Regions from separate parts of the Homo sapiens genome. Here region 2 is linked to region 1. A link means that fine-mapping ties the variant in region 1 to the expression of a gene that starts in the linked region. Tissue or cell type: cerebellum. Region 1 holds a variant in brackets; the other region holds the start of a gene. All regions are shown on one strand. Distances are between the middles of the regions.

Region 1 (8,088 bases):
CTGTCTGCCTCCACCTCCCAAAAGGCTGGGATTACAGGCATGAGTCACTGCACCCAGGCACCCCACCACCCAGCTAATTTTTTTGAGACAGGGTCTCAGTATACTGCCCAGGCTGGTCTCAAACTCCTCGCAAGGTGCTGGGATTACAGGCATGAGCCACTGTGCCCAAGAGTTCTATGCCCTGGCCTGTGGCCATCTTTAATCTGCCACAAATTGGGTATGTGGCTTTTGGGGTATTTTTCTGTTTGCAGTTGTATGAACTTATAAATTCAAATACATATGATAAGTTTCAATTCATTGCAATTATTCTTTTTTTTTTTTTGAGACAGTCTTGCTGTGTCGCCCAGGCTGGAGTGCAGTGGTGCGATCTTAGCTAACTGCAACCTCCGCCTCCTGGGTTCAAGCAATTCTCCCTGCCTCAGCCTCTCAAGTAGCTGGGATTACAGGCGCCTGCCACTAAGCCCAGCTAATTTTTGTATTTTTAGTAGAGACAGGGTTTCACCATGTTGGCCATGGTTGGCCAGGCTGGTCTCAAACTCCTGACCTCAGGTGATCCACCTGCCTGGGCATCCCAAGGTGCTGAGATTATAGGTGTGAGCCACTGCGCCCGGTCTATTTATTTATTTATTTATTTATTTATTTATTTATTTATTTTATTTTTTGAGGTACAGTCTCACTCTGTCACCCAGGCTGGAGTGCAGTGGTGTGATTTCAGCTCACTGCAACCTCTGCCTCCCAGGTTGAGGCCATTTGCCTGCCTCAGCCTCCCGGGCAGCTAGGATTACAGGTGCGCACCACCACACCCAGATAATTTTTGTATTTTTGTAGTGATGGGGTTTCACCAAGTTGGCTAGGCTGGTCTCCAACTCCTGACCTCAGGTGATGCACCCGCCTTGGCCTCCCAAAGTGCTGGGATTACAGGCATGAGCCGCTGTGCCCAGCCCATCATAATTATTTTAACGGCTGCACCATAATCCACTCAAAGTACTTAACCCACCCCCCCATACTGTTTAACATTTAGTTGTTTCCAGTATTTTACCCCAACCAATTTTTCTGTAAACCTGATTGTACATTTAGTGCTTAGAACAGAAGCTCTTCTTTTTTATTTATTTATTTATTTATTTTTTTTGAGACAGAGTCTCACTGTCACCCAGGTTGGAGTGCAGTGGCGCGATCTCAGCTCACTGCAACCTCCACCTCCTGGGTTCAAGCGATTCTCCTGCTTCAATCTCCCGAGTTCCTGGGATTACAGGCAGGCACCACCACACCCAGCTAGTTTTTTTGTATTTTTAGTAGAGACAAGGTTTTGTCATGTTGGTCATGCTGGTCTCCAACTCCTGGCCTCAAGTGATCCACCGGCCTTGGCCTCCCACAGTGCTGGGATTACGGGCATGACGGCCAGAACAAGAGCTCTCAAAATATCAATTAGCTTGGCCAGGCACAGTGGCTCACGCCTGTAATCCTAGCACTTTGGGAGGCCAAGGCGGGCGGATCACCTGAGGTCGGGAGTTCGAGACCAGCCTGACCAACATGGAGAAACCCCCGTCTCTACTAAAAATACAAAATAAGCCAGGCGTGGTGGCACATGCTTGTAATCCCAGCTACTAGGGAGGCTAAGGCAGGAGAATCGCTTGAACCCAGGAGGTGGAGGTTGCAATGAGCCGAGATTGCCCCATGGCACTCCAGTCTGGGTGACAGGAGCGAAATTTCGTCTCAAAAAAAAAAAAAAAAAAAGAAAGAAAGAAAGAAAAAAAAATATATGTATCAATTAGCCAAGACTATTACACTGTTTAGCCTTTTTCTTCATTTCATTCCATTTTTTGCTGTTGTTGAGAATAGCTCCGAAGGCTGGGTACAGTGGCTCACGCCTGTAATCCCAACACTTTGGGAGGCTGAAGTGGGAAGATCACTTGAGTCCAGGAGTTTGAGACCAGCCTGGGCAACATGGGAAGACTCTGCCTCTGAAATAAATAAATAAATAAATAAACAGCAGCTTTATGACCAAAAAAGAAAAAAAGAATAACTCCAAACTGCTTCTTATTCATGGCCGGACATGGTGGCTCATGCCTGTAATCCCAGCACTTTGGGAGGCCGAGATGGGAAGGTCCCTTGAGGCCAGGAATTCAAGACCAGCCTAGGCAACATAGCAAGACCCTGTCTCTACAAAAAAAGAAAAAAATGTGGCCAGGCGCTTGGCTTAGACCTGTAATCCCAGCACTTTGGGAGGCCGAGGCGGGTGGATCACAAAGTTCAAGACCAGCCCGGCCAACATGGTGAAACCCCGTCTCTACTAAAAACACAAAAAAATTAGCCAGGTGTGGTGGCGCCTGTAATCCCAGGTACTTGGGAGCCTAAGGCAGGAGAATCGCTTGAACCCAGGAGGCAGAGATTGCAATGAGCTGAGATCGCACCATTGCACTCCAGCCTGGGTGACAGAGCAAGACTCTGTCCTGTCCTCTGGCCCAGCTATAACGCACGCTCACTGGAAGGGGAGGGCTGAGGCTCTTGTTTCTCACCCAAACTCCCCACAGGGTTGCTGTGCTGAAACACCCCGGACTTCATACCCCAGGGTGAACACAGTGATGTGGGAACACACCACAACACATACTCTCACAAAAAACCTTAAGGAAAAATGTGTGCGGGGAGATGGCACAATGACAGGAGACAGTGGCTCTGAGGCCACTCTCTGGGAGGCACTGGAATTAGTAAAACCGATACGTAAGCCTCAGAGAAACAACCCAGCCCTGCTGTGTATGCTTACCAGTAAAAATTCCAGTCCTCGTTTTCTGTCACTTGGACCCATCCTCTCTTTTCAAAGTTATTGATCAGCACTGACTTCTCGATATCAGTGACCCATTTTACTTTCCCTGCCATAATCCTGGAAGAGATCAAAATATTAGAGATATGAAACTTCAACAGCTCACTTCCCTTTAAACCCAAGGAATCCTCTAAACAGCATGCCCATCCCAAACTCGATCTTACCCCGGCAATGGTTCTCAACCAGGAGTGATTCCATCTCCCAGGGGACACCTGGCAATGTCTAGAGAGTCTGGTTGTCATGACCAGGGGATGCCTCTGGCATCGGGCATGTCCAGGCCAGGGATGCTGCTCGATGTCCGACTGCACAGATGACCCCTCACAACCAATTATCCAGCCCCAAATGTCAACTGTGCCAAGGCTGAGAAACCCTGGTCTGGTGGGAGATAGAGGCAGCCATCAAATCACCACCCGGGAATGTTCAACTGCAAGTGTGCCAGGAGCCACAAAGGAGGGGCACATGGGGCTCTGAGAGCCGCAGACAGGGCAGCTGGGGAGGGCCACCCTGAGAAGGGGACCCTCGGGCCGACTTCCGATGGGTGAGTGGGGATCAGCATGCCTGTCCCACATCCCTCCAGGCACTGCCTGTCTCCCTACTTCAAGTCACCCTCTGTAACTGCAGAGTGACCGTAAGTGTTTATCTGGACTGGGCGTGGTGGCTCATGCCTGTAATCCCAGCACTTTGGGAGGCCGAGGCAGGCGGATCGCCTGAGGTTGGGAGTTCAAGACCAGCGTGGCCAATGTGGTGAAACCCCATCTCTACTAAAAATACAAAAATTAGCCGGGTGTGGTTGTGCGCACCCGTAATCCCAACTACTCGGGAGGTTGAGGCAGGAGAATCGCTTGAACCCGGGAGGCAGAGGTTGTAGTGAGCTGAGATCGCACTACTGCCCTCCAGCCTCGGCGACAGAGCGAGACTCCATCGCAAAAAATAAAAATAGGCCGGGCGCGGTGGCTCACGCCTGTAATCCCAACACTTTGGGCGGCCAAGGTGGGCAGATCATGAGGTCAGGAGATTGAGACCATCCTGGCTAACACGGTGAAACCCTGTCTCTACTAAAAATACAAAAAATTAGCCAGGCATGGTGGCATGCGCCTGTAATCCCAGCTACTCGGGAGGCTGAGGTAGGAGAATCACTTGAACCTGGGAGGTGGAGGTTGCAGTGGGCAGAGATTGCGCCACTGCACCCCAGCTTGGGCGATAGAGCGAGACTCCATCTCAAAATAATAATAATAATAATAAATCAAATAAAATAAAAATAAAATAATTTTTTAACAAGTGTTTATCTGGGCCAGGCATGGTGGCTCACGCCTGTAATCCCAGCACTTTGGGAGGCCGAGGCAGGTGGATCACGAGGTCAGGAGATCGAGACCATCCTGGCTAACACAGTAAAACCCCGTCTCTACTAAAAATACAAAAAATTAGCCGGGTGCGGTGGCAGGCGCCTGTAGTCCCAGCTACTTGGGAGGCTGAGGCAGGAGAATGGTGTGAACCCGGGAGGCGGAGATTGCAGTGAGCGGAGATCGCACCACTGCACTCCAGCCTGGGTGACAGAGTGAGACTCCACCTCAAAAAAAAAAAATTGTTTATCTGACGACATCACTCCCATTTAATAACCTCCATGACTCCCCAGGGCACTTAAACACACAGACCCCTGGCCCTCACCTGCTTCCCCAGGTACACCTCACACCACCTTCTCCTTTACCCTCTGTTCTGCCACGCTGGGCTTCTCTGCCCACTCTCTCTCCTGCCACAGGCCTCGCACACACTGGGCCCCTCCGCCTGCAGCATGCTGCCCTCGATCTCTGCCTGGCTAAGCCGCCTCCCACTCATCTGCCAGCATAAATGAATGTCGCTTGCTCCACAAAGCCTCCCTGACCCTCCAAACAAGGTGCTG[T/C]ACCCCTCGGCAACCCTGGAGCTCTGTATCAAGCATCTGCTGTCCCTGCTGGGGGCCAGGGAGCTGGCTTGCTTTCTTCTTCACTGCCATGTGCCCAGGGCCCAGCTCCATGCCTGGCACGTGAGGGATGCTCAGTTCAGATGGAGAAACTGGCTGCTGTCCCAGGCCTGTCAGCGCCACTGTGGGACTCGGAGCTATCATAGTTACAGGAGGACTCTGGACCTCGGTCTGCTCTGAAAAGTCTCGTTTTCAAACTGCTCAGGCAGCCCAAGATTCAAGGCTCCCACCCCGGCTCCAACCAGGAAGGCTACAGGAGGCTGCCTCCCCACCCTGGCAACCCCCACACCACAGGCATCTGGCCTGTACAATTCACACGTTGTACTTAAGACAATCTTCTGGCCGGGCGCGGTGGCTCACGCCTATAATCCCAGCACTTTGAGAGGCCGAGGCAGGCGGATCACTTGAGCCCAAGAGTTTGAGACCAGCCTGGGCAACATGGCAAAACCCCATCTCTACAAAAAAATACAAAAATTAGCTGGGCGTGGTGGCATGCACCAATAGTCCCAGCTACTTGGGAAGCTGAGGCAGGAGGATCACTTGAATCTGGGAGGTCAAGCTGCTGTGAGCCAGGATGACGCCACTGCACTCCAACCTGGGGGACAGAGTGAGACCCTGTCTTAAAAAAAAAAGCACTCAAGAGACATTCACTATTATCATCATCATCCCCACTGCACCAATGAGGAAGCTGAGGCTCAACAGTTAAGAGCCTGTGTAAGAACCAGACTCAGCTGGGTGCAGTGGCTCATGTCTACAATCCCAGCACTTTGGGAGGCTGAGGTGGGCGGATCACCTGAGGTCAGGAGTTCAAGACCACCCTGGCCAACATGGGGAAACCCCGTCTCTACTAAAAATACAAAAATTAGCTGGGCGTGGTGGCATGTGCCTGTAATCCCAGCTACTCAGGAGGCTGAGGCAGGAGAATTGCTTGAACCCGAGAGGCGGAGGTCACAGTGAGCCAAGATCGCACCATTGCACTCTAGCCTGGGCGACACAGCAAGACTCTGTCAGAAAAGAAAAGGAAGGAAAAACAAAAGAGAAGAGAAGAGAAGAAAAGGAAACAGACTCAAGGGAGTCCGGGTGCCCTGATTCAAAGCCGGGATGATACTACTCTAAAGTGCCGCCTCTCTCCACACAGCCCATCACTTCCCTCTGTGAACCTGGCCTTTGGCAGGATGATGACAACACCCAGGTCACAGGGTCAATGAGCAATAAACAGAACCGCTCTCTGCAAGCTACAAGGTGCTGTATAAAGGACTGCTGTTAGGTGATCCGATATGGTGCACGTGGAACCTCAGCAGTCACACCAAGATGACAATAAAAGCACAGGAGCCGCACCCCAGAGCGTGAGCCCATCCCACACCCCTCACACCCACAGACACGGGGACCACGGGAGCCGCACCCCAGAGCGTGAGCCCATCCCACACCCCTCACACCCACAGACACGGGGACCACGGGAGCCGCACCCCAGAGCGTGAGCCCATCCCACACCCCTCACACCCACAGACACGGGGACCACGGGAGCCGCACCCCAGAGCGTGAGTCCATCCCACACCCCTCACACCCGCAGACAAGGGGACCACGGGAGCCACACCCCAGAGCGTGAGTCCATCCCACACCCCTCACACCCGCAGACACGGGGACCATGGGAGCCGCACCCCAGAGCGTGAGCCCATCCTACACCCCTCACACCCACAGACACGGGGACCACGGGAGCCGCACCCCAGAGCGTGAGCCCATCCCACACCCCTCACACCCACAGACATGGGGGCCAAGGGAGCCGCACCCCAGAGCGTGAGCCCATCCCACACCCCTCACATCTGCAGACACGGGGGCCACAGGAGCCACACCCCAGGTGTGAGCCCATCCCACACCCCTCACACCCGAAGACATGGGGACCACGGGAGCTGCATCCCAGAGCGTGAGCCGATTCCACACCCCTCACACCCGCAGACACGGGGCCACGCCAATGGCTCAGGGAACTTTTCATTTTCACTATGTGATTTCAGCCTCCACAGCTGTGATTTCCTGATGAATCCTGCTTGCGGCCTGGGGACCACCCCCCAACCACCGCCGTCCAGGCTGCATGGTTCACATGTTGTACTTAAAGCAAGCATCTTAGTGGGTGACCTCACACCAGCCACTGACATCTACCTGGAGGTGACAGAAGAGTAGTGACTGGAGACCAGGAAGGCTGTGCGCGATTCTCACACAGTGCTTCCCCAGGCCTCAACGCTTTCAGGTGTGAGACCCCAAACCTACCGAGGCAGACGGGCCAAACATCCTCATCCACATTTCACTAAGCAACTGGGGCAGGTGCTTTAGCCAGACCATCAGGTGTCCCTCCCAGGCCCCGCGCCCTCTCTCCCACCGTGTGGGCAAATGGTCCCTAAGGGGCCGTCTCAGGCTGTACCTACCATAGGCACTGACAGAGCACCACTGGCAACGCCCACGCTCACCTCGGTCTCGCTGACGTCACTGACGCCGGCCCCTCCTTCTTCCCTAAAAGTTAACACACAGATGAAATGTACATCAAACACATTAAGAAGACACTCTTTAACCATTTTTTGTTTGTTTTTGTTTTTTTGAGACAGGTTCTCACTCTGCTCAACCAGGCTGAAGTGCAGTGGTATGATCTCGGCTCACTGCAATCTCTGCCTCCCGGGTTCAAGTGATTCTCCTGCCTGAGCCTCCTAAGTAGCTGCAACTACAGGCGAGTGCCACCACACCCGGTTAATTTTTGTATTTTTTGTAGAGACAGGGTTTCCCCATGTTGGCCAGGCTGGTCTCAAACTCCCAGGCTCTAGCTATCTGCCCACCTCAGCCTCCCAAAGTGCTGGATTTATAGGCGTGAGCCACCGCGCCTGGCCTCTTTAACCATTTTAAGAATACTATGACAAAACCGTAACTAGCCAGAATATTCAGTGGCTGGCATCTTGTTGAACAAATGTACACCAAAAGATGCTCTTAAGAGTCTTCCCATTACAGTAAGAATTTCTGAACTGTATTACTTACTGGCTCCAGCTGGCCTTCTCAAGCTGCCATACCACCCCTCATGTCACACACCCCTCACTCCAGCTGAGCTCAGCCCCTTCCCACACCTGCCCGACCCTTTCCTCCCACCTGCAAGCCTGTGTGCACCCTGTGCCCCACCTGGAACGGCCCCTCTGCACTGCCTCTTCTCCAACTCCTACCAATCATTCAAGGTACAGTTCAAAGGTCACTCCCTCCACAGAGAGCCATTCTCAGCCTTAGCTGGATGGAGCTAAGGTGCCCTCCCCAGACCCTCTGTCTCCTCTCCTGCCATCCTTGCTGG
Region 2 (8,101 bases), 37 kb before region 1:
CCGTTACCAGCAGGCAGGGCCCTGCAGGAGACCTTGGCCTCCCCAGACCACAGGGGCTGCAGGGCTGCTGCGGGGAGAGGGCCAGGCGGCCGCAGCACAGCTGGGAATGGCTCCAGAGGGGAGGGTGGAGAGTGCGCTGGCCCCTGGGGGCACTCAGAGAGGAGCTGCGTGTGTTTGGCACTGGTGGACATGGTGTGTGGCAGTGTGAGCCAACAGGCCAATGGGTGGCAAGCATAGGAGGCTTTATGGAGCACCCTGAAGAACCACTGTGTGGAGGGGAAATGGCCCCCTGTGAGGAAAGTCCTAGCAGCTGGTGGAGCGCAACCAGATGCGGGTCCAGACTGATGGGGTCTCCATGGCAGCCCAGGTGGGAGGCGGAGGAGGAGAAGGGAGACAGTGAGAAGGTTGTCACCAGGCCCTCACTAATACCCGGGGAGCAGCCCGTGTGCAAAGGAGGTGAAGGATGGTGGTTTTCTTTTGTTTGAGATGGAGTCTTGCTCAGTTGTCCAGGCTGGAGTGCAATGGTGCGATCTCGGCTCACTGCAACCTCCGCCTCCTGGGTTCAAGTGATTCTTCCGCCTCAGCCTCCCAAGTAGGTGGGATTACAGGCATGAACCACCAAGCCCAGCTAATGTTTGTATTTTTAGTAGAGACGGGGTTTCACCTTGTTGGCCAGGCTGGTCTCAAACTCCTGACCTCAGGTGATCCACCCACCTCAGCCTCCCAAAGTGCTGGGACTACAGGCGTGAGCTACTGTGCCCAGTCGAGGATGGGTTTATATTGGGAAAACCAAGCCTATCAAACTTGGTGAAAACGACCACAGGATGCAACCCTCTGGCCTGGGACCCACCCCATCAAGTGTGTGGGGGCTGACAAGAAAACAGCAACGGCTCCCGGACAGCTCCCAGCAGGGCTCACTGCTTAGCCCCAGCCTAGCGCTGAATGGGGCTGTTCCTGGCCCGACAGCCTCCCGAGGCCTGCTGCCAACACCGCACCCTTCCCACCCGTGTCCTGGAAGTGCTCAGAGGAAACATCTGCCCAGAACATGACATCACTAAATCATTAATGAGACAGTCACTATATGACATAAATCCACTTAGCAGAGCCTCACTCTCACCTAGCAACTGGGTCACCAGCAAACTAACCACTTGGTGTGACTCTTCCATTAGGACTGCGTGGCCCCGGAGCCTCAGAGGCCAACGTTCCCAACCAGGGACTCCACCCTTCTCCCAGAGGGAGGCAAAAACAACACAATGTAACTGAGAACCGGGTTGTAAAAACCGGTGGAAGAGCTGGGAACAGTTAACGGGGTGTCTTTCACTTCTGCGTGTAGGAGCCGAGGTGGAGCCGCCAGCTGTGCAGAGGACACCCCCTCCTGGGAGGTAAGAGGGCTCGCCAGAGCCAGCAAGGCGTGCGGGCAGGGTCCCTGTGCGGTGGTACTGGTTGTTTCTGAGGCAAACAGAACTCCCCCCCTTTTTTTTTTTGAGACGGAGTTTCGCTCTTATTGCCCAGGCTTGAGTGTAATGGCGCCATCTCGGCTCTCCGCAACCTCCGCCTCCTGGGTTCAAGCGATTCTCCTGCCTCAGCCTCCAGGCTAATTTTTGTATTTTTAGTAGAGATGAGGTTTCACCATGTTGGCCAAGCTGGTCTCGAACTCCTGACCTCAGATGATCCACCCTCCTCGGCCTCCCAAAGTGCTGGGATTACAGGCATGAGCCACTGCGCCCGGCCACAGAACTCCCCATTTTATACAGTGGGAAACAAAGGTGCAACGACCCCAGGGACAGGCTTGGGAAACAGCTAATAAACAGCAGAGCCAGGCCACAAGGCCAAGTCTGACTCGGGGATCTCCATCCCACACCCGCCATCAACAGCAAACACATTAAAACTAAACCCCACGGCTGGGCGCAGTGGCTCACACCTGTATTCCCAGCACTCTGGAAGGCTGAGGCAGGCGGATCACCTAAGGCTGGGAGTTTGAGACCAGCCTAGCCAACATGGTGAAGCCCCATCTCTACTAAAAATACAAAAATTAGCCGGGCATGGTGGTGTACACCTGTAATCCCAGCTACTTGGGAAGCTGAGGCACGAGAATCACTTCAACCCGGGAGGCAGAGATTGCAGTGAGCTGAGGTTGCGCCACTGCACTCCAGCCTGCTGGGCGACAGAGCGAGACTCTGTCTCAAAAACAAAACAAAACAAAACAAAACTTAAACACCAGGGAACACACACAACACACATACCAATAAGATCACGAAGAAGGAATGGCTGAAAAGCCCACCAATTGTAGTTTATTTGGAGTCCAGCCAAGTACCATTTGTGTTGAAAAGACCTATTTTTCCCTAATTGGCAGTGAAACATCATTAAATATATGTACTCATATACACACACACAATATGGCATGTACACTTGACACACGTCCATGCATGGGCACTGAGAGAGCCTGGGCAAGTCAGTTAAGACCCTTATCTGAAGGACATACCCTTGGTGCCATTTGGGAGAACAAACTCCTGTTACTAGCATTGCAACAAAAACAGGTGGCAAGCTTTAAAGATAAACTCAAGACAGCGAGTGAAACTTCAGCAAATACGTGTTAATACGACCATGAGTAAAAGGCCCTTCCTGGCCGGGCGCAGTGGCTCACGCCTGTAATTTCAGCACTTTGGGAGGCGGAGGCGGGAGGATCACCTGAGGTCAGGAGTTCGAGACCAGCCTGGCCAACATGGTGAAACCCCGTCTCCACTAAAAATACAAAAATTAGTTGGGCGTGGTGGCAGGCGCCTGTAAGCCCACCTCTTTGGGAGGCTGAGCCATGAGAATCGCCTGAACCCAGGAGGTGGAGGTTGCAGTGAGCCTAGATTGTGCCATTGCACTCCAGCCTGGGTGTCAAGAGTGAAACTCCACCTCAAAAAAAAAAAAAAAAAAAAAGACCCTTCCTAAGAACAGCACTGTAACTCATGAGTTATTACTCAAATGCATCTGTCCATCTACCCACCAACTCAGGTCCTCTCCATACACTCCTGTAAGTCACCGGGCTACCGGGAGACTGCATGGGAACAACCACGCTCGCGCAGCCTGTCCCGCAGCCATCGCTCCTCCCACAGCTCCTGGCTGCCCACGGCGCTTCCCTGTAGCAAACCCAGCTGCTGACGTCATAAAAGGCACACAGCCGGACCTGTCTGTGCTCATCTAGTTCCATTTACAACAGACTCATCCACAAAACCGAAGTGGTAGAAACAGGTCTTTTTGAAGCCAGGCGTGGTGGCTCATGCCTGTAATCCCAACACTTTGGGAAGCTTAGGCAGGAGTATCGCTTGAGCCCAGGAGTTCGAGAACAGCCTGGCCAACATGGTGAAACTCTGTCTCTACAAAAAAAACTTTAAAAAGTAGCTGGGGGTGGTGGTGTGTGCCTGTGTGGTCCCAGTTACTCGGGAGGCTGAGGTGAGCGGATCACTTGAGCCCAGGAAGTTGAGCCACAATGGCACCACGGCACTCCAGCCTGGGTGACAGGGCGAGATCCTGTCTGAAAAGAAAAAAAAAAAGAAAAGAGAAGAAAAGAAAAGAAAACAGGTCTTCCTGGGAGCACCTAGACAAAGGCCTTTGTAAAGATAAATTACCGAGGAATATTTCTAGTTGCCTGTTTTCTTCAAAATCACAGTCAAGTAAGCTGGGCGTGGTGGCTCACCTCTGTAATCCCAGCATTTTGGGAGGCCGAGGTGGGCAGATCACCTGAGGTCAGGAGTTTGAGACCAGCCTGCCCAACATGGTCAAAACCCCATCTCTACTAAAAATACAAAAATTAGCCAGGTGTGGTGGCACACGCCTGTAATCCCAGCTACTTGGGAGCCTGAGGTGGGAGAAATACTACCCAGGAGGCAGAGGTTGCAGTGAGCCAAGATTGTGCCAGTGCACTCCAGCCTGGGCGACAGAGCAAAACTCTGTCTCGGGAAAAAAAAAAAAAATCGCAGTCAAGTAAAAAGAAACGCAACTAAAAGAGCCGTCAGTTAAATACATTCCTCTCTCGTGGCAGGACGAGTCTATAAGATTTGTTTTGTTTTTAATTTAGTGTAAAGTTTTTTTAATGTTTAAACCTTGTGACACATCAAATTACATGCTTGAAGCTGTTACTTTCTGTCAAAAAAGTGAGTTTTTAATATGAAAATTCTGCTTAGGTTAAAAATTAAAAAAAAAAGAGCGAGTTTTATACATCCGCATGAATTGTTTCCTTTAGCACTAGTCAAACAGACTCCATAACCTTCCAAAGAAGTGCCTTCGTTTATTTACAGGGCTTAGGAAAGGAAAAAAGCTCTACAAAAGGGAAATTTCAAAATAGGGCTTCAGCAGGGGCCCAGGTGGAGTGAGTAGTTTTGATAAGGTCCAGGTGGGACTCACTTCCAGGTGGTGAGGACCGCTCTCCCCGAGTCTCTCGATCGGCCTGCTCTGGGCCCCAGAGACTGACCCTGACGGCTTCTCAGCTCCCGGTCAGCCCCGTCACCCTGGGCCAATTCTTCATCATACCTGGAGACAGAAACAGCCAGGATCACGGCAGGCTCTCTTTCAAAGGCAACAGGCAGGGCCACCAGGCTGCTGTGTGGCAAATATGACATCACCCAGAGAAGCGGCCTGAGGGGGCCCCACCCTCGCGACTCCTGCTGGCTCCCGCCCACCTCCCACCTGGCTCCAGCCCACCTGCCTGCCAGGTGGCTCTCGCAGCCCAGCAAATGCTCCCCAAGGCCAGCCTGCCTATGTGTACAACCTTGTTGTTATTGTGGACAGTGGTCTCCCCTCGGAAGCTGACATTTTATACAGGTCACCAGGTCAAATATGGCAATGACTCCAAAGGCAACATGCATGAGGTGACACAGAACCAGCCCAGGGTAAGTGAGGTGAGACTGCCTGGCTGGAAACGCTTCACACAAGGCACCTGCAGGCTGGGGGGACTAACTCCATTCCAGATGGGAGTGGTACATGAGCACTGGTCAGTGGAGGCCAGGGCAGAGAGGCCCCACGGTGCACACTCAGCTAGAGACTCTGCCAGTGTGACCCACGCCACCCCTCCCCATTTTCTTTTTTTTTGAGATGGAGTTTCACTCTATCACCAAGGCTGGTATACAGTGGCGCAATCTTGGCTCACTACAACCTCCACCTCCCTGGTTCAAGCGATTCTCCTGCCTCAGCCTTTCAGGTAGCTGGGATCATAGGTGCCCACCACCACACCCAGCAAATTTTTGTATTTTTAGTAGAGACAGGGTTTCCCCATGTTGGCCAGGCTGGTCTCGAACTCCTGACCTCAGGTGATCTGCCCATTCGGCCTCCCAAAGTGCTGGGATGACAGGCGTGGGCCACCGTGCCTGGCCCCCATTTTCTTTAACTGCCTGTTTCCCAATTAACGTTCATGCATCCTAAGGCCGCGTGTGCTAAGGAGGCAGCAGTGTAGGAAACAGCCTGAATTTTCGTGTCTGGAAGAGCTGGATGCCAGCTGCAGCTCCCCAGACGGGGTGGTCACAGCATCTGGGCAAGTCCTGGGTCCTTCCCACAGTGGCGGGGCCCTTCTCTCACGGGGTCCTGGAGCATGGTCGTTGCTGCCTGCACCTATTGCAGGCTGTGGCAGGGAGCAGGCTGGGGGAATGGGGCCGCCCCCCTCCACGGTGACTGACATTATCCTCCCAACTCGGGCGGCAGCACCAGGACTTGCTTCCTATGGGGGGAAACTGGGGTTCTAGAGGTTTGCTCAGGGCCTAGGGTCCCACAGCTGGCCTGTGGCACAGGTAAGATTAACCTCTAGGACTTCTGATTTCTAATTCGGAGTTTTTTGTCCCATAGCGCTGAGGAGTGTGGAAAGCATCTTTCCCCAGTTAAAGCACATCCGTCGGTGTGCTGCGCTGGCCATCCTGACTAGGACCCTCGGTTGTATGTAGGTATTTGTGTCAAACACAAAAGGTACCCAGATGCTGAGTGCTAATCATGTGGACTTCTGGAAAAGGGTGGATTTCTGTGATAAGCTTATTACCAAAACCAGAGTTTGCAGGTTGAATGTAGTATGAGTTAGAAACTTCTGAGGTTAAAGAATGTATTTTCTGCATTGTGCTTCTGGTGGCAAACTGGGACTGAAAGAGTAGGTGGGAAGAAAGCATTTTCTGATTCCTTTTTTTTTTTTTAAACGGTCACCCAGACTGGAGTGTAGTGGCCCGATCTTGGCTCACTGCAACCTCTGCCTCCTGGGTTCAAGAGATTCTCATGCCTCAGCCTCCCAAGTAGCTGGCATTACAGGCGCATGCCACCACGCCCGGCTAACTTTTTGTATTTTTGGTAGAGATGGGGTTTCACCATGTTGCCCAGACTGGCCTCGAACCCCTGAGCTCAAGCAATCTTCCTGCCTCGGTCTCCCAAAGTGCTGGGATTACAGGTGTGAGCCACTGCGCCTGGCCGCATTTTCTGACTTCTGTCTGTGAAGCAGACACCACAGGGATCCAGGCTCTGCACCAGGGTGGAGCTGTCAGGATGATGATACAGGGGCCTGCTTCCTCTCTGGCTCTCGAAGGAGAGACACAGCCATAGTCCCTATGACACAAGGAAGCCGGACAGGACACCCCTGGAACTCTGGAATCTGCCTGGGTGGGGGGGGTCCTCCAGGAAGCCTCCCTGGCGCCTCTCCACAGGATCAGATACCCCTACCCCGTGGGGACTCCACATTCATAAATGTCGTCACTCCACTGCCCCCGTGTTTGCTTCCCTGGCCAGGGGGCTGCAGTGACCGCCCGTCTGGTTCGTGGCTGCCCCCAGCAGCTTGCTCAAGGTCTGGTGGATAGGAATCTACTGAATGAATGGAGAAAAGGACCACATATGGTGACCGGTTTCACGGAGCACTTGTGCTGATCTGTGTGGCTCAAAAAACAAAACAAACAGAAAGGAGCATTTGGCAAGCAGCTGGCACCGGGATGCGCTGTTCCCAGGGGTGGTCTGGCCACCTACCGAGCCAACGCAGAGGAGAATCAGAGCCAAGATGGCTCTTCGAAGTTCCTGTTCTAGCAGGCTTTTCTTCTGGCTTTTCACAGAAACAATCTAGTCACTGTTAGGGTTTTTTAAAGGCTGTAAAAGTACAGTCAGCAACTTCGGAACAGGGTCCTGGAGGTGGCAGATGCAAAGTGCCAGGCCTTGTAGGGCCACAGCCAATGGTATGGCCTGGGGCACGTGACCTCATGCGGCCAGTGTCCTCTGCTAGATGCTGCTGGGCTCTGAGGAGTTGCTGTGGGCACGCAGAGCACCTGGCATGGACGGGCGGCGCCGCTCAGATGACGTGGCCCTCCCAGTCAGCACCAACTGCTACTGCTGCTGGTGGCTGCACCTGAAAATGGAGCTGGGGTTCTTTGATCAGCTGAATGCCTAAGGGAAGCAAGCCCTGACTAGAAGCGTTTAGAGGCCATCAGCTCCACACAAGAGCCTTCCATTACTCCTCAGGAGCCAGGAGAGGACGGCTGGATCAGGGAGGGGGGTTCACCTTGTTGTCTCTTCAACTAAAAGCAGTGAGGCTCTGGCCTCTGCTGCTTTTTCTTTTTTTTTTTTTTTTTTTGAGGCAGACTTTCGCTGTGTCGCCCAGGCTGGAGTGCGGTGGCACGATCTCGGCTCACTGCAACCTCCGCCTCCTGGGTTCAAGCCATTCTCCTGCCCTCAGCCTCCCAAGTAGCTGGGATTACAGGTGCCCACCACCACGCCCGGCTAATTTTTGTATTTTTAGCAGAGACGGGATTTCACCATGTTGGCCAGGCTGGTCTTGAACTCATGACCTCAGGTGAGCCACCTGCCTTGGCCTCCCAAAGTGCTGGGATTACAGGTATGAGCCACCATACCCAGCCTGGCCTCTGCTTCTTGGCCGGGAAATGGCGAGTCTGGCCCACTCCCTCAAGAAGTCCACAGGCTGGACGCGGCAGAGGCTCTACACGCTCCCAACAAGCCAGCCTCTCCACCACCCTCAACTGGACTGAAGAGAACCCCCCAAGGTCCTCATGCTACTGACAAGTCTCCCCGCAATGGTCCCCACCCTGTACACACTCACAGACCCCCTCAGTCCTCCAGCACAGGGGCCATCAGGACCCAGCCCCGA

Which allele goes with the higher level. Positions count from the first base shown, and alleles are read on the strand shown. Sizes are in standard deviations (SD) of each study's normalised expression.
In carriers of allele T in region 1, the expression in cerebellum of the gene that starts at base 3,198 in region 2 tends to be higher than with C alone (small effect, 0.39 SD a copy in GTEx).

What was found. PIP is the estimated chance that this variant, and not a neighbour inherited with it, causes the effect.
Region 2: it holds the start of TTLL1-AS1, and the variant in region 1 is fine-mapped to the expression of TTLL1-AS1 in cerebellum (GTEx, PIP above 0.99). The same link has a PIP of 0.9 or more in cerebellar hemisphere.

Annotation. Positions count from the first base shown.
Region 1 is chr22:43,072,713-43,080,800 of GRCh38, forward strand. It overlaps TTLL1 (TTL family tubulin polyglutamylase complex subunit L1), which reads right to left. Exons shown (of 11, transcript NM_012263.5): 2 at 7,190-7,274; 3 at 2,762-2,878. The coding sequence starts at 2,874. Among named protein-coding and RNA genes, the nearest start is that of TTLL1, 13 kb to the right of the region's middle. RefSeq lists enhancers at 5,813-6,335, 6,336-6,857. The variant T/C (reference allele first, on the strand shown) is at 4,716.
Region 2 is chr22:43,035,388-43,043,488 of GRCh38, forward strand. TTLL1-AS1 (TTLL1 antisense RNA 1) reads left to right here and starts at 3,198. Exons shown (of 3, transcript NR_125362.1): 1 at 3,198-4,877; 2 at 5,824-5,914. TTLL1 (TTL family tubulin polyglutamylase complex subunit L1) reads right to left here. Exons shown (of 11, transcript NM_012263.5): 11 at 4,129-4,518. The coding sequence ends at 4,389.